Linked DNA regions of Homo sapiens. The protein of the gene in region 3 interacts with the protein of the main gene of each other region in a pairwise test. Each region holds a gene or a part of one and is shown on either strand. Other genes may lie near its edges. The genes, in order: PLOD3, MAPK9, EFHC2, INPP5J, NME7, TBC1D22B and COPE.

Region 1 (3,500 bases), on a different chromosome or scaffold from region 3:
TGTTGGCCAGGCTGGTCTCGAACTCCTGACCTCGAGTAATCCACCTGCCTCTGCCTTCCAAAGTGCTGGGATTACAGGCGTCAGCCACCGCGGCCGGCCCTTGTTTTTTATTTTCTTGAGAAAGGGTCTCCCTCTGTTTCCAGGCTGGAGTGCAGTGGTGGAAACATGGCTCACTGCAGCCTCAACCTCCCAAGTTCAAGTGATTCTCCCACCTCAGCCTCCGTAGTAGCTGGGACCACAGGCACGCACCACCGTGCCCAGCTAATATTTTAAGTTTTTTGTAGAGATAGGCTCTTGCTACGTTGCTCAGGCTGATCTTAAACTCCCAGGCTCAAGCAGTCCTCCTACCTCAGCCTCCCAAAGTGGTGGCATCAAAAGTGTGAGCCACTGCAGCCAGCCTCATGGCACCTCTGACTGGTGACCACTCCAAACCCCTGAGAGTAGGGGGCTTGGGTCTACCTGGGCCCCGGGTCGGAGGAGGCGGGGGGCTGCAGGCTGGCGGGACTCACACTCGCTTCCGCTGCACCAGCTCCACGTAGTCCTCGGAGCGGGCGTAGTACTCATCGGGGCTCAGGGCGCCCCAGAAGTTGGACCACAGCTTGCCGTGGCGGGACAGCATGGGGGCGATCACCTTCCTGCGGACAGGTGGGGGTGAGGGCTGGGCAGACGGGAGCAGGCCTGGGGAGCCCGGTGCCCAGGGCAGGAGTGGGGTTCCCGGGGCCTGTTGGGGTGCCCTCCGGCTGCGGGGAGAGGGGGTAAGCCACCTGTTCTCCTCAATGAGGATACGCAGGGTCTGCAGGTTGGTGAGGACAGCGTCGGCGTCCAGGCTGAAGTAGAACTCACACTCGGGGTCCTGCCGACACAGGTCCCTGGAGGTGAGAGGCGAGCTGAGACGGCGGCAGGTGGGGAGGCGGTGTGGATGGGGTAACTGGCCCATGCCCCCAGGAGAAGAGGAGGGAGGCAGTGTCTATCCTTCCTTCCCCAGGCTCTCTGCTGTCTGGGTGAGCTGGCAAGGGCAGGAGTGACAGCATGGGGGCTGCAAGGATGCGAATGGGGAGGCCCAGGAGGGGCTGGATGGGTGACAGGTGAGGCAAGGGCCAGGCAGCAGGTGGCAGCACCCCTGACCCTACAGCCTCATCCCACCCTCTCCTCCCCGCAAGCACCCGCTCACATGGCCATGTCCCTGGCCTCGCCTGGGCTCAGAGCCTCCTCCGGCCCCACGAGCTTCACAGCTGAGAAGTGGTCCTGGAGCTGCGGCCAGGAGTCAGCGATGTGGGGTTCATGGAAGACCTCCTGGGAGGGGAAGACATAGGGGGATGGGCTCAGAGGGCAGGGAGGCGGCACCTGAGGGATGGGGGTGCAGGAAGGAGATGGGGGTGGGGGCACGAGAGTTCTGATCAGGGCAGGGAAAGGGTCCCTCAGGAGAGGCTCCAACAGGGGAGTCTCACGTTGTTGTGCAGGAAAAGGGTGACCCTGTCGGGGGGATAGTCCAGGAGTAGCAGCCGCTGCAGGAAGCGGGGCAGAAACGGAGTAGGCTGTTCCACAAACACGGCCAGAAACACCCGGGGGGGAGGCTGGAAGATGCAACACGCAGGGACTCAGAGAGAAGCCCGGACTTCCCTGCTGCCCCCACCCAACCTCCACCCTGACAGGTGCAGGGACCCAGGAGCGATGCCCCCACCGCCCCCCAGTCCGCTGTCCTTGTACCTCCTGCTCAGCACGCTGCCCTCTCGTGCCCCTCCCTGGCACCCCCACCTCACCTGCCCCCCCGGGAGTGTCCTCCGGTCCTGGTTGCAGAAGCCACAGCCTCCCTCAGGAGTCCAGCCATTGGGGACGTAGTTTCCCAGGTAGTTGAGCTGCAGCTGTTGGGGACAGACTGAGGCTGAGTGGCTGAGGCCTCCAGGGGTGGAGGTGGGGGTCAGGCACCTCTGATATGGGGGCTGGGAAGGGCCAGCTTCTCAGAAGGGTTGGAGGTGCCTGGGGGTTGGGGCAGGGCGGGGCGGGGGTTGAGACCACTGGTGGCACCTTAGTGGGACCGTTTCCATGGACCACAATGGGGAGCGTGTCGTAGGCCACGTTCCGGATACGCACACGGTTCCGATCAAACTTTAAAACCACTTCATCTGGGGAAGAAAAAGGCCAGGCTTCAGACCCCCTTTCTCTGGGAGCTACCAAGCAACACATTCTTCTAAATATGGGGTCCCAAATTCTCCAGGGAATAAAGGGACACCAGGGCTATCCTGGAGTGTGGCTCGTTGTGGGCAGGAACCTTTGGGTTCTGACCAGGCTGCTGGCCCAGAGAGCTCCACTGCCTACTACCTGCGTGATCACACCGCAGCTGGGCGAGGAAGGGGAGGGTGAGCTGAGCGGGAGGCCAGTAGGAGCCTCAGCATCCCTACCCCTCCTCATATTCTCTCTCTCCTTGTTTTTTTTTTTTTTTATTTTTATTTTTTGAGATGGAGTCTCACTCTGTCACCCAGGCTGGAGTGCAATGGCGTGGTCTCGGCTCACTGCAACCTCTGCCTCCTGAGTTCAAAAGATTCTCTTGCCTCAGCCTTTCAGGTAGCTGAGACTATGGGCACATGCCACTACACCTGGCTAATTTTTGTATTTGTATTTTTTGTTTTTTATGCTGAGATGGAGTCTCACTCCCAACACGCAGGCTGGAGTGCAGTGGCACGATCTTGGCTCATTGCAACTTCCACCTCCAGGGTTCAAGCGATTCTCCTTCCTCAGCCTCCCGGGTAGCCAGGATTACAGGCGCGCACCACCATGCCCGGCTAATTTTTGTGTTTTTAGTAGAGACAGGGTTTCACCATGTCGACCAGGCTGGCCTTGAACTCCTGACCTCAGGTGATCCACCTGCCTCGGCCTCCCAAAGTGCTAGGATTACAAGCATGAGCCACCACACCCAGCCTAATTTTTGTATATTTAGTAGAGACTGGGTTTCACTATGTCAGCCAGGCTGGTCTCAAACTTCTGACTTCATGATCTGCCCGCCTCAGCCTTCCAAAGTGCTGGGATTACAGATGTGAGCTGTCGCACCTGGCCTTTTTTTTTTTTGAGAAGGAATCTCACTCTGTCACCCAGGCAGGAGTGCAGTGGCGCAATCTCGGCTCACTGCAAGCTCTGCCTCCCGGGTTCCAGTGATTCTCCTGCCTCAGCCTTCTGAATAGCTGGGATTACAGGCACCCGCCACCACGCCCAGCTCATTTTTGTACTTTTTTTTAGTAGAGACGGGTTTTCGCCATGTTGGCCAGGCTGGTCTCAAACTCCTGACCTCAAGTGATCCTCCTGCCTGGGCCTCCCAAAATGTTGGGATTACAGGCGTGAGGCACCGTGCCTGGCCTCTCTCTCTCCCCGTTCTCCCCATCCCCTGAGGCAAGTCACCAACCCCTCCACAAGCTGTTTTCCTCATCTGTACAAGAAGGATAACCAGGGACCTTCCCTTTGTTAAATGGAATCACAGAAGTAGACCGGGCACAGTGGCTCATGCCTGT
Region 2 (3,500 bases), on a different chromosome or scaffold from region 3:
GCCTCAGTGAAGGCTGTGGGGCTGTCATCAGGGCAAGCAGGAAGCCATTTCGACATTGACAACAGGTACAATTACACTGCCATGCTGCTAAGTGACCTGTTTCTAGGCTTCCTAGATTCTGTAAGATTTAAATGATAAACATATAATGTTTAAAAATGCAGTCACAATCTCTACCTGGCCCCAAAAAGAGGCCCCCAGCCCCTCCATTCCACCTTAGAGTACTGTGCAGACACCCCCGGTTCCCAGAAAGGCCTGAGAGGAAGAAACCGGGCTGCCTCCCTGCATGAAGGAAAGCCAGGGAGAAGCAGCCCACATTCAACCAGGGACGCTCCGCTGTGAGGACCAAGTCAGGGAGCTAAGACCAAATGAACGAATTCGCTTCTTGTTTCCTTTTTTAAAATCAAAGAGTATGACAAGAACAGGCATTTTAGAACATAAATTACTAACAGATAAAATAATGCTCAATCTCACAAAAATCTTCTTTAAAAACCCAAAATGAATGCCCATTTTTAGTCTATCACTTGGCAGCGATGGAAAGCAAGCAGACTCGGTGCTGGCGGGAGAAGCAGAAACAGGCGCTTCCTCAGGCCACAGAGGGTGTGCAGTGGGCACTTTCTCTCCAGGAGGCTGATTTCTGAGGTGTGAAATGCACACACTTCCCCAGCCAGCAGGCCCTGAAGCCCAGCCCACCCAGAACTAACAGCACGGCCGCAGGAGCAAGGAAGACAAGGACAGCCTGGTTCTACCAAGGACAGACGCAGCAGTGGAACCATCTCCACGGGCTGCCTGCCAGCTCTGTGAACCCCAGTGCGCCAGAAACACGCTCATCTGAAGACACTGCCATCTGTCAAAAAACTGTCATCACATACTAATTTAACAGGAAAAGCACACTTTACTGCCGTCTGCTGGAAGACTGTGGTGATAAAGTCCCAAGCTTGTGTGGGTGCTCTGTGTGGCCAATGGGGAGGTGGCTAAGGAGGTGCTCTCCCCGCACCCTGGGACCCTCTCTAGTCACCCCCGAAATACAACCTGAGGCAGCTTCCCAACACCTCACTTCAATTTCAAGACAGCAGAGGAAAGACAGTTCTGCCCCTTCAAGTCTTGAAAATCACTCAGAACAAAGAAGACAAATGCCAAGTACAGATCCAAGTGACGCCTGGATCGGGGCTTGGCTCCCAAAATGCCTGGAACCCAACGCTACCCTGTGGGCAGCAGTGAGGGTACCCACAGCACCCGCAGCATGAGTGGGGCAGGTGCTGACCTCCCCCACTGCCCGCTCAACTCTGGGATCCAGACCCACTGCTTGAGAGGTATCCCAGGAAGGAGCACATCATGACAGGTGTCCACTGTCTGGCCTTGCCGGTCCTTCCCCACAGGTACCTGTGGCCACCCACCGGGTAAGAACAGCCAGGCACTCTTGAGGATGAATGGACACAGCTCTAAGTAGACACTGAAACCCGAAGACCCCAAACACTCTCAGGGCTCCTCCACTTGCAGGGTTCGTGGGGTCAGGGGTCAGGGGTCAGGGCATAAGTGAAGTCTGGGCCAGGTCTCTTGCGGCCATGTTATGGGAGGGTGGGAACGTTAGCAAAGGCTTAGAGCAAGGCTGTGAGAGAACATTGCTGTCCAGCCTGCAGCAGTGTGGGCGCTGTCTGGGCCTCTCTTCTAATCAGTGTGGAGGATGCATTTGCCCCATCAACATGCCAGACCTGAGGCCTTATTAATCTGCTCCAGCAACAACTGCACCTTGACATGCACAGCAGCTGCGGCCAGGACTGCCAGTGCCGTAAGCCTGTGGCCGTCTGGGGTCATTCTCCAGAATCCATGCAGCTTCTTCAAGGGCTGGACTAACGAGTTAGACTGGGATGCAAGATACCACTGTCTCTGCTCCCCTGAGGCTTCCATGGTGGCCCTAGTCTCCTCCACCCACCCCGGGCCCTGCAGGGTGTGATCTTGTTTTTGATTTACTATCTTGGGGGCAGTTTCAGGTTTCCATTTGGCCTTCCCACTGTGACGACTCTTACTCACAGGCCAAGGAACTCGTGTGGGCGTTACTCCACCTGCCAAGCGCCTCCGCTCCGGCTACACACTGAGGACTGGGGAGACGGCCACTGGGTGGCCTGGGACCCTGTGGCCCACTGAGAGCCACCAGACACAGACGGCTCAGGAATGAAGGCCTGGGACACAGGCCAGGCAAGCCACAGAGGCCTGCCAATGTGAGAGCTGAGGGTATGAATAACAGGAAAGGGTAGGGAAAGAGCCAGCAGAGAGACCACAGTGACAGGGACTACAGGGTGTCCCACTAACCTCTGTCTTCCAGATTTCCCCTGAGGAAGAGAGAACCATGGGCGCCACAGGAAAGCCATTCCCAACTTATGTGGAGAAGTAGAGCTGAGGGGGCCAGGGTGGACTGTGGGGTCCACGGAAATGCACTCCTTGGTCTCCCGCCACAGGAGTGAGAGTGACAGATGGCCCAGTGTGGTGTCTGCACCTACCCTCTGTCCCTGCCAGGGCACACCTCCCACAGAGCCGTCAGCCAGGGGCCGACCGGGCAGGGATGCTGAGGCAGGCCCGTTCCTGTGTGACACCGGAGGCCCTCAGAGCTGCACCGCAGTCTGGACCAGGCCTCTGAGGGGCCAGGACTGCACTACGTTCAGCTAGCATTTGCTGCCTCCTCTGGCTGCTCCCCCTTCCTTCTCGCACAGGCCTCCTCCCGGCCAGTCCCTCGCCTGTCTAACCCACCGTGGCATGCGGAAGCCGCCCACGAAAAGCCCCACGCTACAGGGACAGGAAGCTGCAGGGCCGCCCAAATGCCCTAGCTGAGCGAAGGAAATGCCAACCTCTATAAATGGCCACGACACCCAGGAAAGGCTCAGCAAGTGAAATGCAGGTGCTATGGAGGCAGAAGAGGCAAGGGTAGCACTTGGAGAAGTTTTCATTTTATTGAAAGTCCAAGTACGTAGTAGATGTCCCAGATCCCCATCTCCATCCCAGAAGTGAGGCTCCACTCCTTCCTCACTCCTGCTGGCCCTTCACGCAGAGAAACTGATGCCCAGCTTCCAGGTGCAGGGCCACAGGCGCCGCATGCACAGTCCTGTGGGTACCAACAGGGAAGGCACGGTGAGGCCTGCCTGCAACAGGGCTGCCTGGTGAGTTTGCGCTCTGCCACATGAGAAGCACAGCCCTGTACCCCAGCAGCCAGGCTTACATCCCTCCACCAAGGGACTGAAGGGGCCTTTTCCAGAGAAATTAAATGGTGCCCAGAGAAAAAACCTACAGAAGGTGACACCTGTGGCTGCCTGTGGTCCAAGAGACACCCATTCTTTAACAATTTACCCATTCACTCAGTACTTCCAGTCAGCCTTTAATGCTTCAATCTCTTTTTTTTTTTTTTTTTTTTGAGACGAAGTCTCGATCTTGTTGCTCAGGCTGGAGTGCAATGGCACTATCTCAGCTCACTGCAACCTCCGCTTCCTGGGTTCAAGAAATTCTCCTGCCTC
Region 3 (2,151 bases):
ATAAAATAAAAATAAAAATTGGGTTCTTAAGAAAGTATAGGAGGATCTATCAGCGTATTCATGCTGCATAACAACTCCTTAAATTTCAATGGTTCACAACAAGACACATTTCTTTTTCTTGTCTATGGGCATGTAGGTCAGTGAAGCATGGCTGGATTCAGCTAAGCTTGGCTCTTAGTCCGCAAGTCCAGCCTGGTCTGATCCACCTTGGTCATTCTAAGAACAGCAGCATCCTGGGCCATGTTCTTTTCATGGTGATGGCAGAGGCACAGAAGGCCAAGCCAAATGATGCCAGCACGCTAGAGCCTCTGTCCATGATATGTCTGCTAATAGTACATAGGTCAAAGCCAGTCATGTGGCCAACCCCATATCAAAGGAACAGGAAAATATACCCTTCTTACTCCACAGGAGGTTCTACAGAGTCATATGACAAAGAGTGTGGGCACATAATTCTTATACAGGGAGGGAATGAAGAATCAAGAACAAGTATCCAGTAGACCACAAAGTCCTTATGAACCTAAAGTAGATGGTAGAAATTTTCACTTTGCAAATAAACTGGTGTTGAATTTTCAAAACTGTACTTTGAAATGTGGTTCTAATCATATCCATTTTTGGTTTTTTTCTAGAGATGTGAAGATGTTTGGCTTGGTATGCCATCACCTATTCCTGCGAAATACATTGACTACTGGACCTTTTTGAAGGACGCGTTTGGCTTAGAGGAGGAATAACCATGCCAGTTTTGGTCAATTCTCTATGATTTACTTCTCTCATTTTGCCACATTTACTTTAGTAGATATAATTTCATTAAAAACAAAAAAGAAACAAGGTTTATATTAAATGGAAATCCATAAACCACAATTAATCCTATTTTGTCATGTTAGTTTTACAGAACATCATGTTACATTGCCGACGTACTGTTACTATTTAAAATGCCATCTTAAAACATGTTGAATATTTTTATTATATGTATGGTTTATTAATACCAAAAAATCTTCTGATAATTTTTGATCCAACATAATTTGATTCATTACTATATGAACAGAAAATGACTTTTGAAGGTTATACATGACAATACAAAATCAAATTATATCACAGCAATAAGTTGTGATTCTATTAAACATTTTTGAAACCTTTTTGACACGTTTATTACTTACATAATTAAGTTTTGTAGCAACCCACCTCATCAAAATAATTCTTAAACCTCTCTAGAGTAAATATATTTATCTTTTGAACTTAGTAAAGCTATGGGAAGAAAAAGAACCTCCAACACACACACACACACACACACACACGCACGTGCACACACACTGGAAACATATGCAGTATTTATATTTGTAATGCCCTTTTTTCTATCTAAAGTCAGCTTGTTAGCTTAGGAATATATGCATGTGTGTATAATTATAGTTTGACCAAAACTTTATTATGTCTAAAATATTTACAAATGTGAAAGCTGAAGATTTTGAGATTTTTGTTTTTTTTTTGGTTTGTTTTACACACACATCCCACGCGCCCCACCCTAGAGGTTTAAATATTCAGAAACTACAACATTTTTCCCCTGCATTTTTCTAGTTCTATTTTTATTTTTCTTCAGCAGAACTCTTGTCATGTAGTGTACATTTGATTAAAACCCATAGCCATGTACCTCTGGGAATTCAGTGTAAGAAGTCTATCCCAGTCTATGCCATTGTTCAGTGTTGGATGCTATGTATCATAAATCCATTTGCCTGGTGTTCTGGGAGACAATGGAGGTCTCAAAAAGGAGCTGCACCATTTACCTTTCAGGGACTACCCTGAGAAAAAGAAGAGCTGATGACATCTCAAGGGACCCTTCGGACTCATTATTCTTTCACTCCACATTTGCAGCAGTGTCTTGCTGGCTTCTTGGCACTCAAATGTACCAATTTATTCTCCACAACAATGGCCCTTTCATTTTTAAAAAATTGGAGTTAATCAATAAACGATTTCTATATGTAAGCCTAGGATAATTCCACATGTGCTATTGTTAGAATAGACGCTCCTCCCAACCCTTTCAGGACTTAACACTAAACTAGTATACTCAATTTATATACTAAAACTATCTACCATAAATCCTAAATTTGACTACTTGATTTTTGTCCCAGGTTTTTTTTAAGGCAACTGACAGTGCCAAGC
Region 4 (4,222 bases), on a different chromosome or scaffold from region 3:
ATCATCACCTCTACCTTTGCCATCACCATCACCTCCACCACCTTCACCACAACCACTGCTAGCCCCCTACTTCCATCATCACAGTTACATACATCATCACATCCATCACCACAGTCGCCTTCCCCGTCACCACTGTCACCATCTCCACTATCGCTGTCCAAAGACCTTTCTACCCCAACACTCTAATATGGCCTGAGTCTCTGCCCCTGCAAATTCCAGCAGAGATGCTGGCCTGAGAATACAGACTAGACCTACTGACAGTCAAGCAGAGGTAGGAAGTGCCTTCAGGAGAGGAAAGTGAGGCATCTGCCTTCATGTAGGAGACTGCACAGGCCCATGCAGATGCTCCATGTTGGTTAACAGGGAGCTCTGCACACACAACTCTGAACACTTTCTGCCTAAAGTGGGTGGGATCACTCCTCTCTAAGCCATGAGAAACAGATCCCACAGCCATCCCAGCCCAATCTGACCCTCATCACCCATTCACTCTTCTAATTCATTTATTCATTCAACAAACACTCCCGTAGGCCTGTTGGGGACCATGTCCTGGGCTGGGTCCTGGCTGTAGCAATTCTCAGGCCTGTTTGTAACTCTCTTGTCAGTCTGTTACCCCACTGCTGGGCCCTTCTCCACCCAAGTTCCCTTCCCCCAGATAGCTCGAAGGGCTTGTGCTCATCCTAGGTCACTAAGTTTTCTCACTGAAACACAGGAGACCTTCTCAGTTCACCAGGTGACCTTGAGCAAGTTCCCCTCCCAAACCACACCCAGTGAATACTGGAGAGAAGAAAGCTGACAGAAGCCGGGCTGGGTTAGGCCTGGCTGTGGGGACATCTGAGGGCAGCTAGGTGTCTGCAGAAGAGGAGGGGCTGGTGCTGAGGCCTGAGATGGGAAAAGACTGCAGTGGCTGGAGCCTGAGTGTCTGGTTCTGGGTTGGGAAGAATAGAGCCTGGGACTGGCAGTAGGAGTGGAGAGGGTGGCACCAAGACCTGAAAATGGGGCAAGGGTGGGGGCCGGGGCAAGCTCTGAGCTGGCAGGGAGCCAGGAAGGTCACAGGATCAGGGCAAGAACTCAGTTGTCTCTGAGGCCCTGGAGAGGGTGCAGACCTCTGAACCACCTGTCCTACCTTAAGGCAGGTGTGTTAATGCCCCTCCCTGGAGCAAAGGGCTGACCAGGCCTACGGCAGAAAGGTGAAGGTAGACAGACAGCCTCCTTCCTGCTGCCAGTTGGGACCTGGGCCAGGCAGATGGGTACACTCTCCCCTCCCCACTCCATGGCTGTTCCAGCCTCAGCAGCCAGTTTGAAGGATTCCCAGGGGGTAGCCACCTTGCTTCGGCCTCTTCCAGGCTGGGAAGTGGGAGCCTGTGCCTTTAAATTCTCAGCAGGTTGAAATGGCTGATGACATCACTGGTTCCCGGGAGCGGTAGAGCTGGAGCCGGAGCCAAGGGAGTCCAGGCTGCCGGGGGCTGCAGACATGGAGGGCCAGAGCAGCAGGGGCAGCAGGAGGCCAGGGACCCGGGCTGGCCTGGGTTCCCTGCCCATGCCCCAGGGTGTTGCCCAAACTGGGGCACCCTCCAAGGTAAGACCCCTGAGACCCAGTGCCCCCCGCTTTCCTGATCCCTGGTTCCACACACCCCCCCCACATACACTGCAGGCTCCCTGGTGCTCCTGACTGAGGGGCTGGTACTTTCCTCTGCTCAGCGAGCAGGGGCTAGGTGAAGAGAGCACCCTGGGGGCTGAGGGGCAGTGACAGGATGCCCGGAGACAGATGAAGTTAGCCATCTCCAGGAGCCCTTGGGAGAGTCCTGGACTGGGTATCAGAGGACCCAGCTGTGCTCCACCTTTGCTGTGTGACCTTGGCCAAGTTGCTTTTCCTCTCTGAGCCAATGCAAAATGAGGGGGCTTGTCGCTGAAGACTAAAACTGTGACATCTGGGATGGCTAAGTTGTTAGTACTGGAGGCGGTGTGATAGTTGGGGGGAAGCCGGCACACAGTGTGACACTTGGAGCCAAGGAGGGTGCCTAAAATGCCACCTCAAAGAACTGAGTTTGAGAAGGGAGGTGGAGATGGAGTTTTAGGTACTCTGAACTGAGAAGGATACGGGACAGAAACAGAAGTGCGTCTCCAGAGGCAGGGCCTCCCTGCGCCCTGTTACCCTACCTAGGGCCATCCTGGGGCAAGTATAGACATTCTTCTGCCCTCCTTGGTGAAGGACACTTTATCCTGTCTTCTGGAGACAGGGGACATCAGAGAGAATAGATGGGGAAGGAGGATAGGTCTCTACAGGACTCCGTGACTCCCCACCCCTCCCACCTGCCGGACATAAATGGGATACCTGCTTGCCTGTCCTTTCAGGTAGGGGAGAAAGTGGAGGATGTAAGAGGGCACAACCTGGGCACAGAGAGATGTGACACCAGGATCAACTTAGAATCCTGGACTTGCTCTGAATGCTAGATTCACACTTGGTGAGGATGGACTATTCAACGGGGCTAGATGGAATTCTAGCAAATGTTGGGCTCATAAATGCAGACAATGGGAGATGAAGATTCCCCAGAATATAATGTGGCCAGGAACCCTAGACCCCATCCCTTCATTTTACAGACAGAGAAACTGAGGCGCTGGGCAGAGAGGTACTTGCCTAAGGTCACACAGAGCTGGGCTTTGAATCTACACAGCCAGTCTCAGCTCCCAGCTCTTGCTCCTGAGTGGAGCTCTGGGAATGGGTAAGAGAACAGAGAGGGCTGTAACCAAGGGATTTGGATGTTTAGGGGGCGGTGGGGAACTGAGGGTTTCTGGGCATTATGAAGGAAGGGAGAGGTATTTAACAAGCTGCACCTGTAGGTCTGTATCTTGACAATAGAAAAAGAAAAGAAACAGGCTGTCCCCAGTGTGCCCAGACCTGGGATGTCAGGTCAGTAGCCGTGGCTGGGGGAGCTTCAGGGACTGCAGTGGGAGGGTTGCCCAGGGAAGCTGCCCCGAATGGGCAGGGTGTGGGTGCCAGCCAGGAAGGCAAGGCAAGTCCTCAGGTTTAGGTTCACACTCTGCCTCATTTGAGTCAGGGTCTGAGTTTCCCCATCTGTGAAAGAGGTTTCAGACTTAAAGGAGGGGTTAGGGTTTTGTGTCCTATCTCCTCCAAGACAGAAGTTGACCTGCAGCAGAATAGATTGAAGTGAGATAGTAGGAAGAACTTCCTTGGAAAGATGTGCCTTTCTTAGCTAGATGAACTCTGCCAGGGTCTATATGGAAGTTGGGGCCCAATGCCCTGGTTAGGGTCACTCTGAATCTTTGACTTGTCCTCCACAAGGTGGACTCAAGTTTTCAGCTCCCAGCAAAGAAGAACGCAGCCCTAGGACCCTCGGAACCAAGGTTGGCTCTGGCACCTGTAGGGCCACGGGCAGCTATGTCAGCTTCCTCGGAAGGACCGAGGCTGGCTCTGGCATCTCCCCGACCAATCCTGGCTCCACTGTGTACCCCTGAAGGGCAGAAAACAGCTACTGCCCACCGCAGCTCCAGCCTGGCCCCAACATCTGTGGGCCAGCTGGTGATGTCTGCCTCAGCTGGACCAAAGCCTCCCCCAGCGACCACAGGCTCAGTTCTGGCTCCGACGTCCCTGGGGCTGGTGATGCCTGCCTCAGCAGGGCCAAGATCTCCCCCAGTCACCCTGGGGCCCAATCTGGCCCCAACCTCCAGAGACCAGAAGCAGGAGCCACCTGCCTCCGTGGGACCCAAGCCAACACTGGCAGCCTCTGGCCTGAGCCTGGCCCTGGCTTCTGAGGAGCAGCCCCCAGAACTCCCCTCCACCCCTTCCCCGGTGCCCAGTCCAGTTCTGTCTCCAACTCAGGAACAGGCCCTGGCTCCAGCATCCACGGCATCAGGCGCAGCCTCTGTGGGACAGACATCAGCTAGAAAGAGGGATGCCCCAGCCCCTAGACCTCTCCCTGCTTCTGAGGGGCATCTCCAGCCTCCAGCTCAGACATCTGGTCCTACAGGCTCCCCACCCTGCATCCAAACCTCCCCAGACCCTCGGCTCTCCCCCTCCTTCCGAGCCCGGCCTGAGGCCCTCCACAGCAGCCCTGAGGATCCTGTTTTGCCACGGCCACCCCAGACCTTGCCCTTGGATGTGGGCCAGGGTCCTTCAGAGCCTGGCACTCACTCCCCTGGACTTCTGTCCCCCACCTTCCGGCCTGGGGCCCCCTCAGGCCAGACTGTGCCCCCACCTCTGCCC
Region 5 (3,500 bases), on a different chromosome or scaffold from region 3:
CTTTCACAGTCAAATTACTGAATAATAAAATCTCACATGACCAGCAATAAAAGTAAATGTTCCCAGCTAATCCATTTAAATTGAGTAGATATTCAGGGATCTCACACCTAATACCTGCTAAATACATATCACACATGTTTAGCTGCCCCTATCCACAAAAGTATATGACCATTATTGAAACTGGTCTCAAGACCAATCTCTGCCATTTCCCTCCCTTTTACCAGCTTTTTCTTATTTCCATTAGGAAAATGAATCTATAAGAGAAATTTAGGAAGAGGGAATTTAATATATAAAAGTAAATTTTTCAATAGCCACAAAATTGCATAACACCATTAACCTCAAATATTTATTTTTGAAGGTTGATATTTTAATCTCTTCCATTTTCCTCAACTATCTTCTCATTAGGCAGCAATCTGGTTAATATGAAAATAACACATTTCATATGTATATTACAGTTTATAAATTACTTTCATATTAACTTATTTGATCTTCACAAAAAATGCTTTAAGGTAATCTAAACAGAAAGTATTATTTTGATTTTATGGATGAGAAAATAACTATCCAAAAAGATTACATAACACACAGCTCATAAGTGCTTAAGCCAGGACTGGAATAAAGACTGAAATTTTAGATTTCTAGCTCTACATCAGTTTGTTTGTACTTCAACAAGCTACATCTTGAAAATAAGTACACAAGAGAGGACTGGAAAATCTGTCTACAAATAATAGTTAAAAAAAGGCCAACTTAATATTCTTCACTACAGTCAGACAATAAACCTTGAATTTTAACAATTTATAATAGATGTAAAACAATAATTACAAAGAAATATTGTAGGTAAGTATTAACAGTGCCTTTCATCTATAGAACATACAGTAATTTATATTTCTCTCAATATTCTGAGCAAAGCAGGTGACAGTTTTATTAAAAGTTCAAATCTATTGTTAGACATATGTATGTAATGTATAGAAATACCAGTTTAGAGTTTAGAAGAAACAGGCACCATGGTATACTGCTAGCAGAGTATTCACTGGCAAAACTATTTTGGGAGTAGTCTGGCAATGTATATTGAAAGCCTAAAAATGCACATGACCTCTCGCACCTAGTTATTTCCTTTTTAATTTATTGTAAGGAAATAATTATGGATGTCTATAAAAATGTGTTCGCAAAAATATGTTAGTATTGTGTTAACAGAACAAATTAATAAATGGATTGGTTAAATCAGAGTAAATGAAAGAATAAAACGTAGAGCTGTCCCTCAGTATTTGCAGGGGATTGGTTCCAGGACTCCTACAGATACCAGAATCCTTAGACGCTCAAGTCCCTTACATACAATGATATAGCATTTGCATATAACCTATGCATATCCTCCAGTATATTTTAATTCATCTCTAAATTACTTACAACACGTAATACAATGCAAATGCTATGTAAATACTTGTTATAGTGCTTTGTTTTTATTTGTATTTTTTATCATTGTATTGTTATTTTTTTTTTTCAAATATTTTCAATCCTCAATTGGTTGAATCTGGATGCAGAACCCATGGCTACCCAGGGCTGGCTGTAGTTCTTAAAACTGATCTGGAAAAATGCAAAAGATATATTAAGTGGGATAAAACAGATTTCTAAACAATGAATATAATAGAATCATATTTTAAAGGATATGTATCTCTGTGTGTGTGTGTATATATGTATGAGTATATATGTGACCAGGATATTACACAAAAATATTAATAGCGATTGTATACAGGCAGTGTTATTATAGATAAATGTAATTTTATTACTTTTACTTTTATATTTTCTCATTTCTAAAAATGACTAAGTAATTTTCCTATATTTCTACAACAGAATAAGTTAAATATCTTTATAAACATATATAAAACATATATAGCATATATATGTATCATGTAAATATTGAAACTATGGAAAACAAAGGATAAAAGTTGAATTTACATCTATCAGAGAGCTCTAGAGCCATTATGTGTGCATATGAAGATACATTTTAAAGAGTATAGAAATATGAAGAAGGCACAGCACATAAGATGAGTCAGGAGAGAGAACAACAGCAACTTATTAAGGCAAAGTGTCCAGTATCAGAAAATAAATGTGAATTAAGCAGTACATTTTAATAGCTACAGTTTCTCACATCTAATTAACAGAAAGTTTTAAATATTGACAACTTTGGAAGTGAAGAAGTTTAGGCAGTTTTTGAAAAAAATGTGAATACAAAGTTCATTGGGAATGCTGGAGATACTTCTGGAAAGTAAGATACTTCAATCATATGCTATAGCAGCATCAAGAAAGGTACTAGGTGAAGATCACAGCAGCAAACATAACTCCCATGTTGAAACTATAATGCATACCCATCTGGAATATGTAGCTCTGCTCGCCACACCTTAGAGTAGATATTATAGAAACAAAAAATAAGTCCAGAAATGGGAAAATAAATTATGAAATGGCAACTATAAGGGATGAAATTAGGAGTCTCTGAAGTTCAAAGACAAAAGAAGCTCAGAAAAATATTTCCCAAAGCTTATAAGATCATAAATTTTACAGATAAGATAAAAATAAGCACCAAGAGACCAAATTAATATGGCAAAAGTTTAAGGCAAATCCAAGGAAAATAAAATATTTTGATGGAATAGGTAAAATATATAAGATGTATAATACTACTGCATTTAGAATAAAATCCAAAATCCCTCCCAAGTTCCATAAGTCTCAGTATTCCTGGCTCCTTCCTGCCTCTCAGATCTCTTCTCCTCCAGCTGTCCTCTCATTCCCTAGGCCCCAGCCACACTATCTCCCTCCTGTTCCTCTAATGCACCTCTGTGCTCACTATTGACTCTGCCTGGAATGCTCTTCTCCTAGGTTTCACCTGGCAAGCTGCTTTCTATCATTGACATCTCAGCTTAAAAGTCACATCCTCATGAGGACCGTCCCTGATTGTCCTACTCAAGGCTACTTGCTCTTGGAACCAACCAATATTGCATTACTTAGTTTAATTTTCCTCATAGTACTTATCATCATATGAGGTCATCATTCGTTTATTTATTCATGTAAACTGTTTTTCTCTCAAACTAAGGAAAAAAACAATTAAAGAGTTTTATCATCAAAGAGACTTTCCCTCACCACCCCAGGCTAGTTCAGATCACTCTATTTTATTACTAACTTCCACCTCACCTTGTCATTTTTCTTTTGTAATCCAACTTATACTTGTAATTTATTTTCCAATATCTGTTTTTCTCCATAAATTCCATGAGTTAGGGGCCACTGTGTGCTATCTTATTAATCAATGTATACCCACCAGTTACCAGTATATGGAAAGTACTCAATAAATACTTTCTCGAATAGAAGAATAACTGGTGAATGAGAAAGAATTGGGAATAAAAAGGCAGAAAAAGGAAAGCAAAAATAAATAAAAAGCTACATGAAAAAAATTATGGCATTATATTAACCACTTACTATTCCGTTCTCCAAATACCACTGTTTCCTACTAAACAAGA
Region 6 (3,500 bases), on a different chromosome or scaffold from region 3:
ACAGAGTAGCACCAAACTTCAACTTTCTTCTCAAGGCCAGCAGAAGAACTTTTAACAGAATAAAAAATGGAACAACTTTTTTATTTTGGGACTTAATGTTTAATGCTACATATGTGGACTACCTAAAATTATCTTGTTTTCTGCCAGTAGTTTATGTGCTGCTCTAAGTGATAGCAGATCAACTGTCAAATCTCTGTGGATTAACATAGTAAAGGTTTATTTCCTGCTCATGCTACATGTCTAAAATGGGGGTGGGGTAAGGGCAGAGGGCAGGCTCCTCGACATAGTTACTGCTGCTCCACATAGCCACTCAGTTACCTAGGCTGAAGGAGGTTCTACCATCTTGCCAGTGCATCATGATAGAAGAAAAGCTATGGATCAGGCATGGTGGCTCACACCTGTAACCCCAACGATTTGGGAGGCCGAGGTGGGAGGATCACTTGAACCCAGGAGTTCAAGACCAGCCTGGGCAACATAGTGAAACCTTGTGTCTACAAAAAATAATAATAAAATTAGCCAGGCATCGTGGTGTACACCTGTAGTCCCAGCTACTCAAGAGGCTGTGGTGGGAGGATCACTTGAGCCCAGGAGGTCAAGGCTGCAGAGAGCCATGATCATACCACTGCACTCCAGCCTAGGTGACAGAAACTCTGTCTCAAAAAAAAAAAAGAGAGAGGTTATACAGAACTGACACCTATTCTCTACTTTGCCTGGAAGTAATCGCCTCATTTCTCCTCAGTCCATTGGCCGGTATTGGTCATATGGCCTCACCTAAGTGTATGGGGGCCAGGAAGTATACAAGAGCACATGGGATATTTGGTGACCATTGCTGTCTCTGCTACATCTGTCTCTGCGATCTCAGGCTGGTCTGGATGTATCTAGATGAAGAATGGATGTGGGCAATTTTTGTTTGAAGAAGCTAATGATTATGTATGTGGTAGTTTGTAATTTATTAATATTACAATAATAAGCAAATGTAGGTGGTCAGATGTGTCAGGCCATTCCTTGGTAATCGTGTCTCCTTTCTTGAAGTTTCATTAAAGAACGATCAAAAGTCAACACAGTTCCTCTGAAGAATAAGAAGGCCTCCAGTTTTCATGAGTTTGCACGGAATACCAGTGATGCTTGGGACATTGGCGATGATGAGGAAGAGGACTTTTCCTCACCTTCTTTCCAAACTCTGAACTCAAAAGTTGCTTTGGCAACTGCAGCCCAAGTTCTAGAAAACCACAGCAAGCTGAGAGTAAAACCAGAACGGTCCCAGTCAACGACATCGGACGTCCCTGCCAACTACAAGGTCATAAAGTCCAGCAGTGATGCCCAGCTGTCCAGAAACTCTAGTAAGTCCTTCCTGCTCCCTTCATAGCCTCAGCCTTCTCAGCAGCGTGCATTTTAAATAAAAGCGATTTTTCTTTGGGGCCTCACTCAGGTAGATATTCAACTGGGCGGTAAATAAACTCAAGCCTGAGATGTGACATCATTAAGCCTGAGTGGTCACAAGCTATACTTGCCCCTCCCACAGTGGTGGCTGCCCAGTCTGGTGACCTGGGCCTTCACTCTCTGACACCCAGGTGTTGTTTGCCATTCTCCTCTTCTCTTCTTCCTTTCCCTGTGGTGGAGTCCACAACTTCTCTGGTTTGATTGCTTCACATTGCTTTAGGCCTGGTCAGGTTTAGAAATAGTAACTGATGTATTTAAAGCTGTTAGTGGCTGAATTTCACAATTGTTTGGCACTGTGGTTTGACTTTCTCAGCCCTAGGGAACAGCCACTAGCATAAGGTTGTCTTTTCCTGTTCCTGAGGGAGGGAGCAAATGTGCCTAAAGGCCCCAGGTCCCAGCTTCCTGACCATCAGGCAGGTCCCATCAGGTTGGGTGGGGTAGAAGTAGAGGCCTCTCTGTTTCTTTTCGGGAAACTGGCCACAGTAATGGTTGATGTGTTGGTGGTTTTATTAGCTTTTGGGGACTCTCAGTGTATTCCTTTAAATATTCATGGTTATGTTTAATGTTGCCCTAATGGGTTTTATAAAGTATGTTGGGAGCTGGAGAGGGAAGCTTTGTCATCGCAGTGAGAGTTAAAGCAGTGAGCTGGTACAGGATGAAAAGGAAGTAGAAGAACATCAGAGCCCTGGAGTGTACCCTGGCTCATGTTCTGAGGGAACTTTTTCGTGGCTGTAAGGTCTTTGCAATCATTGCACAGTTATTTTCCATCACTGATTTGGGCTCTAGCATGAACCTTCAGTGCCATGCACAGATAGGCATTCAGTGTTACTGGACCAGGTGGCCACAGCTGCAGGCCGTGGAAGGTGTCTACACACTGTGATGGAGGGTCTCCAGAGGTTTCCAGTGTGAGGAAGGCCCCTACCGTGATCCATGATGAGCTGCCCTGTGCAGCCAGGACCTCCCCCGCCCAGCCCAGAGCATTCTCCCTGAGGAGGTTTTCTCCTGCCGGCATCTGTCTGTAAATAGGTAATATGAGATTTACCTCTGTCTCAGCTTTGCAGTGTGTGTCTGCATTTTCTAGTCCCCTTGTTACACTAGGCGTCCCAGCCAACTGCCTCATGGAAGTTGTTTTTGTAAACCTTCTAGTAGTGCTGGTTGGTTGATAGTCACTGCATCTGTCTGTAAATAGGTAATATGAAATTTACCTCTGTCTCAGCTTTGCAGTGTGTGTCTGCATTTTCTAGTCCCCTCGTTACACTAGGCATCCCAGCCAACTGCCTCGTGGAAGTTGTTTTTGTAAACCTTCTAGTAGTGCTGGTTGGTTGATAGTCACTGTTTAATTTTTGTTGTGACTACTACTTTTTAAGGCCCAGCCGTGTAAAGAATATGAAACAGTCATGTAAGCACAGCTAGAATTAAAAACTGAGTTTTGCTTGTGGTAATACAAGAGTTTTAGAGTCAGGCTTACCTAAGGTGGTTTTTCACTTCTCACTTGCAAGTTATTTAACCTCCCTGAGCTGCAGTTTCTTGTCTGTAAAATAGTTATACATTCCTACCATATGTTCTAAGGATCAAATGAGAGATCATATGTAAAAGTGACCTATATGCCTTATACATATGAAGCACTCAATATACGTGAGTCCTCTACTGCTTATTCCCCCTACCCACTATCTAGTGTAGAAATGTCAAGAACAAGACAGAGTTCAGTTTGAGTCTTTGTTTGTTATTTCAGTCATATCTTGGCAGAATTAAGAACTGGTTGATTTTGGTGGGAAATGTAGGAGCACAAAGGAACCGCAGCCACCAAAGGCAGGATTGCCTTAGGCCAGAGCTTCTCACCATTGTGCAGGGCACACTGGTGGGCCAAGAACCGGGTACAGGATGTGCGGGGATATTGATCCTTTTAGTCCTTGGAGCAGCTGGGGGTTCTGGGGCTTGTGGAGAGCAACCACCTCCATTTATTGCAGCCTTGTGCTTTGTGGTGTCATCTGCAGTGTCATCATTCCTTATGTGCTCTGTGGTGTGGAATGGGAAGGAAAACACTGCCTTAGACTAAACTA
Region 7 (3,500 bases), on a different chromosome or scaffold from region 3:
CTCCAGCTGGAGCCAGCCCTGCCGCCACCTTGACTTCAGACTTACGGCCTCCAGAGCTGTGAGGAACGAATCCCTGTTGTCCTTAACTGCCCGGGCTGTGGTGCTTTGCCACAGCAGCTCCAGGACATTGAGACAGGTGACCTCCCAGGGCCACTGTTTCTCCCACCCTGCACTTACTTCACCAGCTGGAGTGAAGGCAGGGAACCCTGGGTCCCCCAGGAGCAGCAGCTGCTGTGAGCATCACAGAAAAGCAGCCCCGGAGAGCAGGCGGTCCAGGCAGGGGCTTGTGGTCCGTTCATCTGGCTGCACAGCCGCGACCTCATTGGCAGGACGCCCCGGGGACAAGGAGCATCCATTAGTAATTGGTTTTGGTTTTGATTTTGTTTTCTTGAGATACGGTCTTGCTCTGTCGTTCAGCCTGGCATACAGTGGCACAATCTTGGCTTACTGCAGCCTTGATCTCCCAGGCTCAAGTGATCATCCCACCTCAGCCTCCCGAATAGCTGGGACTACAGGCACGCATCACCATGCCTGGCTAATTTGTATATTTTTTAGAGATGGGGTTTTGCCTGGCCGGGCGCAGTGGCTCACACCTGTAATCCCAGCACTTTGGGAGGCCGAGGCGGGCGGATCACGAGGTCAGGAGATGGAGACCATCCTGGCTAACACGTGAAACCCCATCTCTACTAAAAATACAAAAAAAATTAGCCGGGCATGGTGGCGGGTGCCTGTAGTCCCAGCTACTCGGGAGGCTGAGGCGGGAGAATGGCATGAACCCGGGAGGCGGAGCTTGCAGTGAGCCAAGATCGCACCACTGCACTCCAGCCTGGGCGAAAGTGCGAGACTCCGTCTCAAAAAAAAAAAAAGAGAGATGGGGTTTTGCCATGTTGCCCAGGCTGGTCTCAAACTCCTGGGCTCAAGCGATCCGCCCAGTAATTGATTTTGTTGCTGTTGCTTGTTTTTGAGATGGTCTCCCTCTGTCACCCAGGCTGGAGTGCAGAGGTGTGACCACAGCTCACCGCAGCTTCAACCTCCCGGGCTGAAGCCATCCTCCTGCCTCAGCCTCCCAAGTAGTTGGGACTACAGGCGCCACCAGGCCCAGCTGACTTTCTTACTTTTTTGTAGAAAAAGGGGTCCTACTATGTTGCCCAGGGTGGTCTTGAACTCCTGGGCTTAAGCGATCCTGCCTTGGCCTCCCAAAGCGCTGGGGTTACAGGTGTGAGCCACAGTACCCGGCCCCATTGGTAATTGTAACACCTTAGGATGACAACATTACAGTACCAACGCTACGACAACTGGCAGTGTTTATACACCCTTGTGTGCTGGAGCCTCAGGAAGCTTTGTAAGATGGTCTTGGGAGCTCCTTGCTCCTCCCCTGCATGATCCCTGTAACATGGTCCCTCAGCACGGGGAAACAGACTCAGACCTGAAGTCACTTGTCTGTTGGACCTGGCACTGTGGCGAGCCCTCAGTGGAGCCTGGTTGGTATCAGACATGCCATGCCCTCAGTGACACCTCAGACACGGGCCCTGGGCAGACAGCCCCCAGATGCGCGTGGATGCTTACGGGGTCACAGAGCCACGTTTGAACCCAGAAGAACACCAGCTTTGGTCTAGGGTGGCCCCCTCACCTGCCTTCTCTTTTTAGCTGCTCAATAGCCATGGGGAATGGAGGGTCTGGGTCCAGTTAGGGACATGGAGGCATGGGTGACCTGTGCCCTCGGAGCTGAGCCGGTCCTCAGCCTTGCCTGGGCTCAAGCCTGGCCCTGGCCCGCAGCACACTGGCCATCTTCAGGGTGCAGCCAGCACCCTGGGCTCTCAGGGACTGAGGGCAGCTGCCCTGGCAGTGGGGGTGCCCCAGGGCTCCCATCCTTCTGCACGGCCCCTCGGCACCCAGGCCGACCTCCTGCTAGAAGACGTGGCCTTGAAGCCCACAGGGTTGATGGGTTATGGTCAGGAGTCCCAGCTGGGCCCACCAGCCTCCTCAGGAAGGCGGGTGAGGTTGGTGTGAGACTGACGGTGCCTCCTCATGTCCCCTTGGAGCGCCCCACCCCACATCTCCCGGCCTCGGGTCCTTGCCTGGCCCAGCATGAGAGGTGCTTCATAGGAACGGAGGGAGGACATGTCGGGACAGCTCGATGCTCGGCCTGCTGCTGCTCTGCACCCCCAGGGCCTGGCTCACCCTCTCTGGACCTGTCTGCTTCCAAGGAAGGGGACCCTCTGAGGTCCCACAGAGGCCACCCCAGCTGTGGGTCGTGAGCATCTCTGTCTTGCAGGGACAGCATCGTGGCCGAGCTGGACCGAGAGATGAGCAGGAGCGTGGACGTGACCAACACCACCTTCCTGCTCATGGCCGCCTCCATCTATCTCCACGACCAGAACCCGGATGCCGCCCTGCGTGCGCTGCACCAGGGGGACAGCCTGGAGTGGTGAGTGGCCTCCCTGCTCTGGGGCCAGCCCAGGGAGGCAAGTGCCCCCTGCCACATCTCCAGGCTGCGCACGGCCTCGCTGGCTGTCGTCATGGGAGCAGAGAAAGGTGGTGCTGAAATGAGGCCCTGGCCTGCTGTCCAGGCTCCAGCTCCCCTGCCCAGTGTGGGAGGCACTCCCATCTGCGCACCAGGCTGCAGATCCAAGGACACGGTGCCCAGGCTGCAACCCTCTGTTCCCAAGGGCAGAGCAGAAAGCGGCTTTGTCTCTGCTCGGTTTCTGTGTCCCCACCCCCCACGAAGCCTTCTGTGTCTCGGCCCTGGGCCCAGTCTCTCAGGCCTCCCCGGGCCCCCCATACCGGCCCTCCTCCAGGGCCCTCTGGGGTTGGGGTGCTGAAGCCCTGCAAGGTTGGTGCCCCCCTCCACCCTAGGATGTGACTCCGGGCCATGTCCAGGGCACTGGTCACAGAAAGTGTGTCAGTTCTTCCCCGTGAGCTGTCCCTGCAGTGCCTGCCTTCCACTGTGAGTTGCAAGCTGGGCATTTCATGGTCGCTGTGGATCTGCTCCCATCCCACCTCCATCCACAGAGGGCTTAGAATTGCAGGGCGAGCCAGGCATGGTGACATGCACCTATGTTTCCAGCTACTTGGGAGGCGGAAGCAGGAGTATCCCTTGAGTCTGGGAGGTGGAGGCTGCAGTGAGCCGTGATGGTGCCACTGCACTCCAGCCTGGGTGGCAGAGCCAGACCCTGACTCACACACAAAAAAGAAAATAAATAGGGATGTCACACTGTCGGCGAGCCGGCCGACTCGGTGCTGGTCCAGGTGCTGGCTCCTGTTGGCAGGAAAACAAGAACAAGAGGCCTCACGAGTAATTCGTGGTCACAGCCACCTGGGGCTGAGAGGGATGAGGGGACGAGGGGGCCTGCAGAGAGTGGGTGGCCCCAGGGCTCTGCTGCAGGTGCAGGTGCAGGGGCGGGTGCGTGGCCCTCCTCTAGGGCCTTGTTCCTGAGTGTTGATGCCTCCAGGGTGTCGAGTCCGGGCAGGGCCCTCCATCTGGAAGCACAGCCCATGGA

The links.
Region 1: the proteins of EFHC2 (region 3) and PLOD3 interact in binary tests that used the Homo sapiens proteins (3 or more experiments, as listed by UniProt).
Region 2: the proteins of EFHC2 (region 3) and MAPK9 interact in binary tests that used the Homo sapiens proteins (3 or more experiments, as listed by UniProt).
Region 4: the proteins of EFHC2 (region 3) and INPP5J interact in binary tests that used the Homo sapiens proteins (3 or more experiments, as listed by UniProt).
Region 5: the proteins of EFHC2 (region 3) and NME7 interact in binary tests that used the Homo sapiens proteins (3 or more experiments, as listed by UniProt).
Region 6: the proteins of EFHC2 (region 3) and TBC1D22B interact in binary tests that used the Homo sapiens proteins (3 or more experiments, as listed by UniProt).
Region 7: the proteins of EFHC2 (region 3) and COPE interact in binary tests that used the Homo sapiens proteins (3 or more experiments, as listed by UniProt).

What each region holds. Positions count from the first base shown.
Region 1 is NC_000007.14:101,211,082-101,214,581, forward strand, and holds part of PLOD3 (multifunctional procollagen lysine hydroxylase and glycosyltransferase LH3 precursor), read right to left. Parts: intron 2,124-3,500; coding exon 2,026-2,123; intron 1,863-2,025; coding exon 1,761-1,862; intron 1,575-1,760; coding exon 1,449-1,574; intron 1,294-1,448; coding exon 1,172-1,293; intron 870-1,171; coding exon 765-869; intron 636-764; coding exon 510-635; intron 1-509. UniProt on the Homo sapiens protein: Multifunctional enzyme that catalyzes a series of essential post-translational modifications on Lys residues in procollagen. Plays a redundant role in catalyzing the formation of hydroxylysine residues in -Xaa-Lys-Gly- sequences in collagens.
Region 2 is NC_000005.10:180,250,584-180,254,083, forward strand, and holds part of MAPK9 (mitogen-activated protein kinase 9), read right to left. Parts: intron 1-3,500. UniProt on the Homo sapiens protein: Serine/threonine-protein kinase involved in various processes such as cell proliferation, differentiation, migration, transformation and programmed cell death.
Region 3 is NC_000023.11:44,147,372-44,149,522, reverse strand, and holds the end of EFHC2 (EF-hand domain-containing family member C2), read left to right. Parts: intron 1-626; coding exon 627-728; 3' UTR 729-1,651; downstream 1,652-2,151. UniProt on the Homo sapiens protein: Microtubule inner protein (MIP) part of the dynein-decorated doublet microtubules (DMTs) in cilia axoneme, which is required for motile cilia beating.
Region 4 is NC_000022.11:31,121,544-31,125,765, forward strand, and holds the start of INPP5J (phosphatidylinositol 4,5-bisphosphate 5-phosphatase A), read left to right. Parts: upstream 1-1,422; 5' UTR 1,423-1,471; coding exon 1,472-1,576; intron 1,577-2,352; exon of another isoform or gene 2,353-2,462; intron 2,463-2,598; exon of another isoform or gene 2,599-2,720; intron 2,721-3,301; coding exon 3,302-4,222. UniProt on the Homo sapiens protein: Inositol 5-phosphatase, which converts inositol 1,4,5-trisphosphate to inositol 1,4-bisphosphate.
Region 5 is NC_000001.11:169,357,798-169,361,297, forward strand, and holds part of NME7 (nucleoside diphosphate kinase homolog 7), read right to left. Parts: intron 1-3,500. UniProt on the Homo sapiens protein: Possesses an intrinsic kinase activity. Displays 3'-5' exonuclease activity with a preference for single-stranded DNA. Does not seem to have nucleoside diphosphate kinase activity.
Region 6 is NC_000006.12:37,278,272-37,281,771, forward strand, and holds part of TBC1D22B (TBC1 domain family member 22B), read left to right. Parts: intron 1-1,032; coding exon 1,033-1,340; intron 1,341-3,500. UniProt on the Homo sapiens protein: May act as a GTPase-activating protein for Rab family protein(s).
Region 7 is NC_000019.10:18,905,888-18,909,387, reverse strand, and holds part of COPE (coatomer subunit epsilon), read left to right. Parts: intron 1-2,275; coding exon 2,276-2,428; intron 2,429-3,452; coding exon of another isoform or gene 3,453-3,500. UniProt on the Homo sapiens protein: The coatomer is a cytosolic protein complex that binds to dilysine motifs and reversibly associates with Golgi non-clathrin-coated vesicles, which further mediate biosynthetic protein transport from the ER, via the Golgi up to the trans Golgi network.